2 separate regions of the Homo sapiens genome follow, and region 1 is linked to region 2. Evidence: fine-mapped expression QTL. A gene starts in region 2. The other region holds a variant in brackets. All regions are shown on one strand. Distances are from middle to middle. Region 1 overlaps PLLP (plasmolipin). Region 2 holds the start of PLLP (plasmolipin).

Region 1 (2,904 bases), 25 kb after region 2:
CAGGAAGGACACAGGCTTGACTTTGTCCCAGGAGGGGAGTAGAAGTGAGGGGCTGTTGAGTGGATTTGTAAGAGGCCATTTGGAATCTTAAAAATATTTTTCCCGGCCGGGTGTGGTGGCTCACGCCTGTAATCCCAGCACTTTGGGAGGCTGAGGTGAGTGGATCACCTGAGGTCAGGAGTTTGAGACCAGCCTGACCAATATGGTGAAACCCTGTCTCTACAAAAAATACAACAATTAGCAAAATACAACAATTAGCCAGGTGTGGTGGCGCGCGCCTCTAGTCCCAGCTACTTGGGAGGCTGAGACAGGAGAATTGCTTGAACCCAGGAGGCGGAGATTGCAGTGAGCCGAGATCACACCATTATACTCCAGCCTGGGTGACAGAGCAAGACTCCACCTCAAAAAAAAAATTTCCCTCTGGGGGTGGTCAGAATTTGTGCCTGTGTTGTGTGAGTTTGTGAGATTGTAGCTTGGCCCAGGTAGGCAGCCCTGTGGCTGGAGGCTGTGGCAAGCTGTCAGAAGTTGCCCAGGCCAGGGCCTCAAGTGTGCAGGACAAGCTCGGGCACCTGGCTGCCTGCAGGTGAGGCCCTGAGGCCTGGGAGAGGCTGGGCTCCCCAGGTTTGCCCCAGGACAGTCTCCCCAGGACACAGGGCTGAGAGCGGACATGGGAAGTACCCCGGCCAGACACACAGAAAGCTGCTGGTTTTTTTTTTCCTCTGACCCGGAAAACCCCTGCAGCTGGGGTCTGAGGCTTTCAGTGAGAAGAGAGGCGAGAAAGGCACATGATTGTAAGACAAGCAAGGCTGGGACTAGGCGGCATTGTTTGGAATTCAATGACTTTTTAAACCGAGGAAACGTGAGTCATCCTCAAGACAGAATGGGTTTGTTAGATCTCGACATCCCTGGCAGAAACAGGCAGCGTTTGCAGGGGTCGCTGGGCTTGCAGGGAAGATTTTGGGGCGAGGAGGCGGTGCCTTGACTTCCGGGCTCAGGGTCCACCCCCTCCCTCACGTCCCAGGGACCTCTAAGAGAGAAATCTCCAGAGATAAAAGCCTGTGTGTCTCTTAGGTGCAGATTTGGGGCTCCAGCCGTGGCTGTTAATGGAAGGAGGCTCCCTTCTGCCACAGTGGCAGGACATTGCTTCTTGTGCTTCTGGACCCTCAACGAATGGGGCAGAGAGGGCTTAACTGCATCTAGAGAAGGCTGGATTAGCATGGCCAATTTGGGATTTTCTGGCATGGGGGCTACAGACCCCTACAGGATCCAGGCAAGATATGTGAGTAAATTGGGTCAGGAGGGACCCTGGAGAAGCCAGCATCCATCTGCCCATCGCAAGCTGCCTCTATACTCACTTCATCTGTTCCTAGTGGGAATGCAGCCCCTTTGGAGCGAAATCTTTTGATATCCTAAGTTTTTTTTTTTTTTTTTTTAGACAAAGTCCCGCTCTGTTGCCCAGGCTGGAGTGCAGTGGCACGATCTTAGCTCATTGCAACCCCTGCCTCCCAGGTTCAAGTGATTCTTCCGCCTCAGCCTCCTGTGTAGCTGGGATTACCGGTGGGCACCATCACTCTTGGCTAATTTTTGTATTTTTATTGGAGACGAGGTTTCACCATGTTGGCCAGGCTGGTCTCTAACTTCTGACCTCAAGTGATCTGCCTGCCTCGGCATCCCAAAGTGCTGGGATTACAGGCATGAGCCACACTGCACC[C/T]GGCCAAGATTTTTTTAATATAAAATTTTTACATGAAGTCTTCAGGTTTTCATGAAATCTAATTTTATAATGTTGGTAATTTTTTAAAAGTATATTGGACGAACTGAATGAATGTTTGAGGACCAGGCGTTTGAAGACGGTGAATGGGCTCCTGGGGCCAAGCGTTTGGGATGAGGGACTGGTCCCTGGTTGTCAGCAGAGGGCCCCTTCCTGCCAGTCTGGTTCCATATCCAGCTTGAAATATCTGGTCCTCTTGGTCCTGACCCTGGCATTTGCTTAGAGCCTTGAGCTTAGGATGTGGCCAAGAGGGAGACAAAAATTCTTCCCCCTGAAGGCAGAGAGGGATGTGAGGCCCAGCCCAGGACTGGCCACAGAGCCAAACCTTGCAGTGGTACCAGGGATGGCCTGGGCTTGGCCCTGGACCACACTTGGAGGAGTAGCCTGTGTTTCTTTAGCTGGTACAAAGAGATGGGTCATGGATTGGGCTCTTTCTGTGAGGAATGGGTCTGGCACTGCCACTACCCCATCACTGAGGCCCTCCTGTCATTCCCCTCCTCCAGCCTCAGGTGTGTTCATGCTCCCTGCTCAGCAGGCCTCCTGGGGACCAGGGCCTCATGGGCTGACTCCCTGGAAACTGTGGCCTCTTGAGGCCCTGTTGGTGGGAAAGACCCAGGTGTTTGCATCACCATCCAATGGCTATTCAAGGAGTGTGCCAGTGGGAACCAAGAAGCCCCAACCGTTGGTCTTGTCTTTTTTTTTTTTTTTTTTTTTTTTTTTGAGACAGGATCTCACTGTGTCACCCAGGCTGGAGTGCAGTGGTGTGATCATGACTCACTGCAGCCTCAACCTCCCGGCTCCAGGTGATCTTCCCATCTCAGCCTCCCAAGTAGCTGAGATCACAGGCATGCGCCACCATGCCTGGCTAACTTTTTTATTTTTGTAGAGATGGGGCCTACCTATGTTCCCCAGGCTGGTCTCTAACTCCTGGGCTCAAGCGATCCTTCCACTTCAGCCCCGCAAAGTGCTGGGATTACAGGTGTGAACCACCGTGTCTGGCCTCTCTTTGTGTCTTAAGCCTTTTCTCTCCCCACTCCCTACCCCCATGTCCTGCAGTTAATGATCTTTAACATCAGCGCCACCGTTCTCTACATCACCGCCTTCATCGCCTGCTCTGCGGCAGTTGACCTGACATC
Region 2 (2,892 bases):
TGGGGATTTTGAATGTTCTCACCCCAAAGAAGCCATAAATGTATGAGGTGATGGATATGCTAAGTACCTTGATTTGATTTTTTTACACAACGTACACAGGTACCAAAACATCACATGGTACCCCATATTTAGGTACAATTATAGGTTGCCGAAAAAGTAATTGCGGTTTTTGCTATACTTTTATATGCAAAAACCGTATAACTTTTGCACCAACCTAATATTACATGTCAGTTAAAAACAATTTTTTAAGTGGCTCTCTTTTTAAGTGGGTATTTGGGAAAAAAAAAATGTGGGAGCCAAGAAGGCCTTGTCTACTTCGTTTCCTGCTGTATCCACAGGGCCTGGCATGTAGTAGGTGTTCAGCAAACATTGGTTGATGAATGCATGATGACCTATCTGTGCAAACCTCTAGGCTCAAGAGGTGTGTGTGTGTGTGTAAGTATTTTAGGGTGCATGTGTGGCAATGAAACTGTATATGACCTCCCATCTTCTGAGTGACCCCTCCTCCCTCACGCTGTCAGGAGCTTTCTGGGGAATATTTCATTTATTCCCTACAACGCTCTGTGAGGCAGGTTTCCTTCGTATCTATATGACAGACGAGGAAACTGAGGCTCCGCGATCATCTAAGTTATATAAAATATGTTCAGAAGTGAAAACAGCATTAATAGGCAGAAAAGGACCTCCCCCTTCTACCGCTTACCCACCGCTTACCCAGACCCTCCCCTTCCCCGCGCTGGGTCTCCCAGGATTCTTCTTTACTTTCTTTTCTATAAAATACAGACGGGGGGAGGGGGGGCGTCTCACTGTGTTACCCAGGCTGGTCTCGAACTCTTGGCCTGAAATTATCCTTTCACCTTAGCCTCCCAAAGTGCTGCGATCAGAGGCAGGAGCCACCGCATCCAGCCTTCTCCCGGGACTCTTCAAGAGTCGCTGCGCCGGGGCCTAGGCCGAGGGTGCACAGCGCGTAGAAAGCGCCTGGGAGAGCGGTGTCCCCCGCGAGCTACCACAAGTTTATCCCTAGGCGCGGAAGCTACCACGGCCTGGGCGAGAGCCGGGAAATTCCCAGCGGGCGGCTTGCCCCGGGGGAGGCCGGCGAAGCGGTCTAGGCTGGTGCTGGCGGAGCCGATTCACGGACCCGGGGTTGTTTACTGGTCCGGGGAGTGGACGCGGCTGCCCACGAACCGGTCGCGGCTGGGGCGGCGGCGGCGAGCAAAGGGTTAAGGGGGCGGCCCCGGCGGCGGGGGCGGAGCCGGGATCTCGGCCGCACCTGGCGCCCCAGGCTCCCAGCCCCGACGCCTCCTGCAGCGCCTGGAGCCACACAGGGATCCGGAGCCTGGGGGAAAAGCGGCGCGGGAGCCGGCACCCACCGCTGGAGGGGCGGCGACGGCGGCCGTAGCGACCTCGGGAGGCAAGCGGAGCCGCCATGGCCGAGTTCCCGTCGAAAGTTAGCACGCGGACCAGCAGTCCTGCGCAGGGCGCCGAAGCCTCGGTGTCGGCGCTGCGCCCGGACCTGGGCTTCGTGCGCTCCCGCCTCGGGGCGCTCATGCTGCTGCAGCTGGTGAGAGCACGCGCGGGCCCACGGGGTTGGCCGGGGGCTCCCGGTCCGGCCAGGATGGGTGAGGGACTCCGGCGCTGCGTTCATTTTTCGCGAACCTTGCGCTCCCCACCCGGGCTCACACTGTCACCGACGCGCTGCGCGTACCCCTAGGGCGCTTCCCGCACGGACGCCCCCAAGATCGCCCTGCATCCCTCTCACCACGACACTACCCCGTGGCCGTCGCTGCGAGCGTGAGCACCCTGCACCGTGTACAGAGTGCCCACTGCCCGTGCCCCATCGTGCCCCCTCCAAGGTGGTTACCAGCGGCCACAGAAGCCCCCACCGGAGCCACAGTCACTGCGCACAACCCGCCAACCCTTCCCAGCCCTCCCTTCCCTCCTCTCTCTTTTTCACCCCTCTTTCTGCCCGGACAGTGCCCCCAGCCCTCTAGGGAACCCAGTCTGAGGCAAAGTCCACTCTCTGACCACCTTCTGTCCCGCTCCCAGCGGCTCCGGGTGGCCGCACCCATGAACATTCCTCATCTAATCTAGAGGGCACATCCGACTCCCCAACACGCACACTCAGGCACTACCCTGTGGGCGCCCGCGCGGGAGCCGGGCTCTTCTAGCTTTCTCTGGGTGACCCGCCAGGTTTCAGCCGGTTTAGCCAGCCCCACGGGACCGAGATATCGCTGGAGGGAGGGGTTTGTGGGTAGCCAGGGGCAAGACTCCTACTCTCTCCCAGACCCCTGTACAGACCCCAACTGAGGCGGACCCATGGGAACATCCTCCACTCCCACACCAGCCACAGGCCCGGATGTTAGCTTCTTCCTCTGCCACCCTTTCGTGAGGGTCTGGAAGCTGGGTGGGTGCCCTGGGTGGGTGAGGGCCTGATACATTTTCAGAGGACTCAGGTGGAATTGGAGTTGGGCCAGGACCTGTATTTCTTAGCAATCCAGCGAGTGGACATTTCCCATTGTCTCCTATTGCTGGGTGCTAGCGCTGCTGCGAGGCCCAAGCTAGAGGGCAGGGTGGTTGCTTTGGTGCCAGACCCTGGGCTGAGGTCCAGTCTCCCTTCCCTGACCTCTCCAGGTGCGGGCCCACCTCTACCTGGGTCAGTGCTATCTCATTTCAGGATTTCTCAGATCTCTGTGGGCCCCCTCCCCAACCTCTGAATCTCCTGGCGGGTTTGTTTAAAATTTAGATTATTGGACTCCACCCCCGGAAAAAAATGTGCAATCGGAATTTGAATCTCAGGAAGTACAGCCAGAAATTCATTTTTAACAGTTCTCCCAGAGTTTTTTGTTTGTTTCTCTTTTGGGGGGTGGGGGAGAAGGGGAGAAGATTCTGTCTTCT

The links. PIP is the estimated chance that this variant, and not a neighbour inherited with it, causes the effect. A credible set is the group of variants that fine-mapping cannot tell apart.
Region 1: its variant is the best candidate, but not a certain one, in a credible set for the expression of PLLP in whole blood (TOPMed, PIP 0.86).

Annotation. Positions count from the first base shown.
Region 1 is chr16:57,258,505-57,261,408 of GRCh38, reverse strand. It overlaps PLLP (plasmolipin), which reads left to right. Exons shown (of 4, transcript NM_015993.3): 3 at 2,825-2,904. Among named protein-coding and RNA genes, the nearest start is that of ARL2BP, 15 kb to the right of the region's middle. RefSeq lists enhancers at 1-126, 538-597, 608-747, 1,791-2,346. The variant C/T (reference allele first, on the strand shown) is at 1,712.
Region 2 is chr16:57,283,072-57,285,963 of GRCh38, reverse strand. PLLP (plasmolipin) reads left to right here and starts at 1,292. Exons shown (of 4, transcript NM_015993.3): 1 at 1,292-1,558. The coding sequence starts at 1,424. RefSeq lists a silencer at 1,099-1,508 and an enhancer at 1,553-2,214.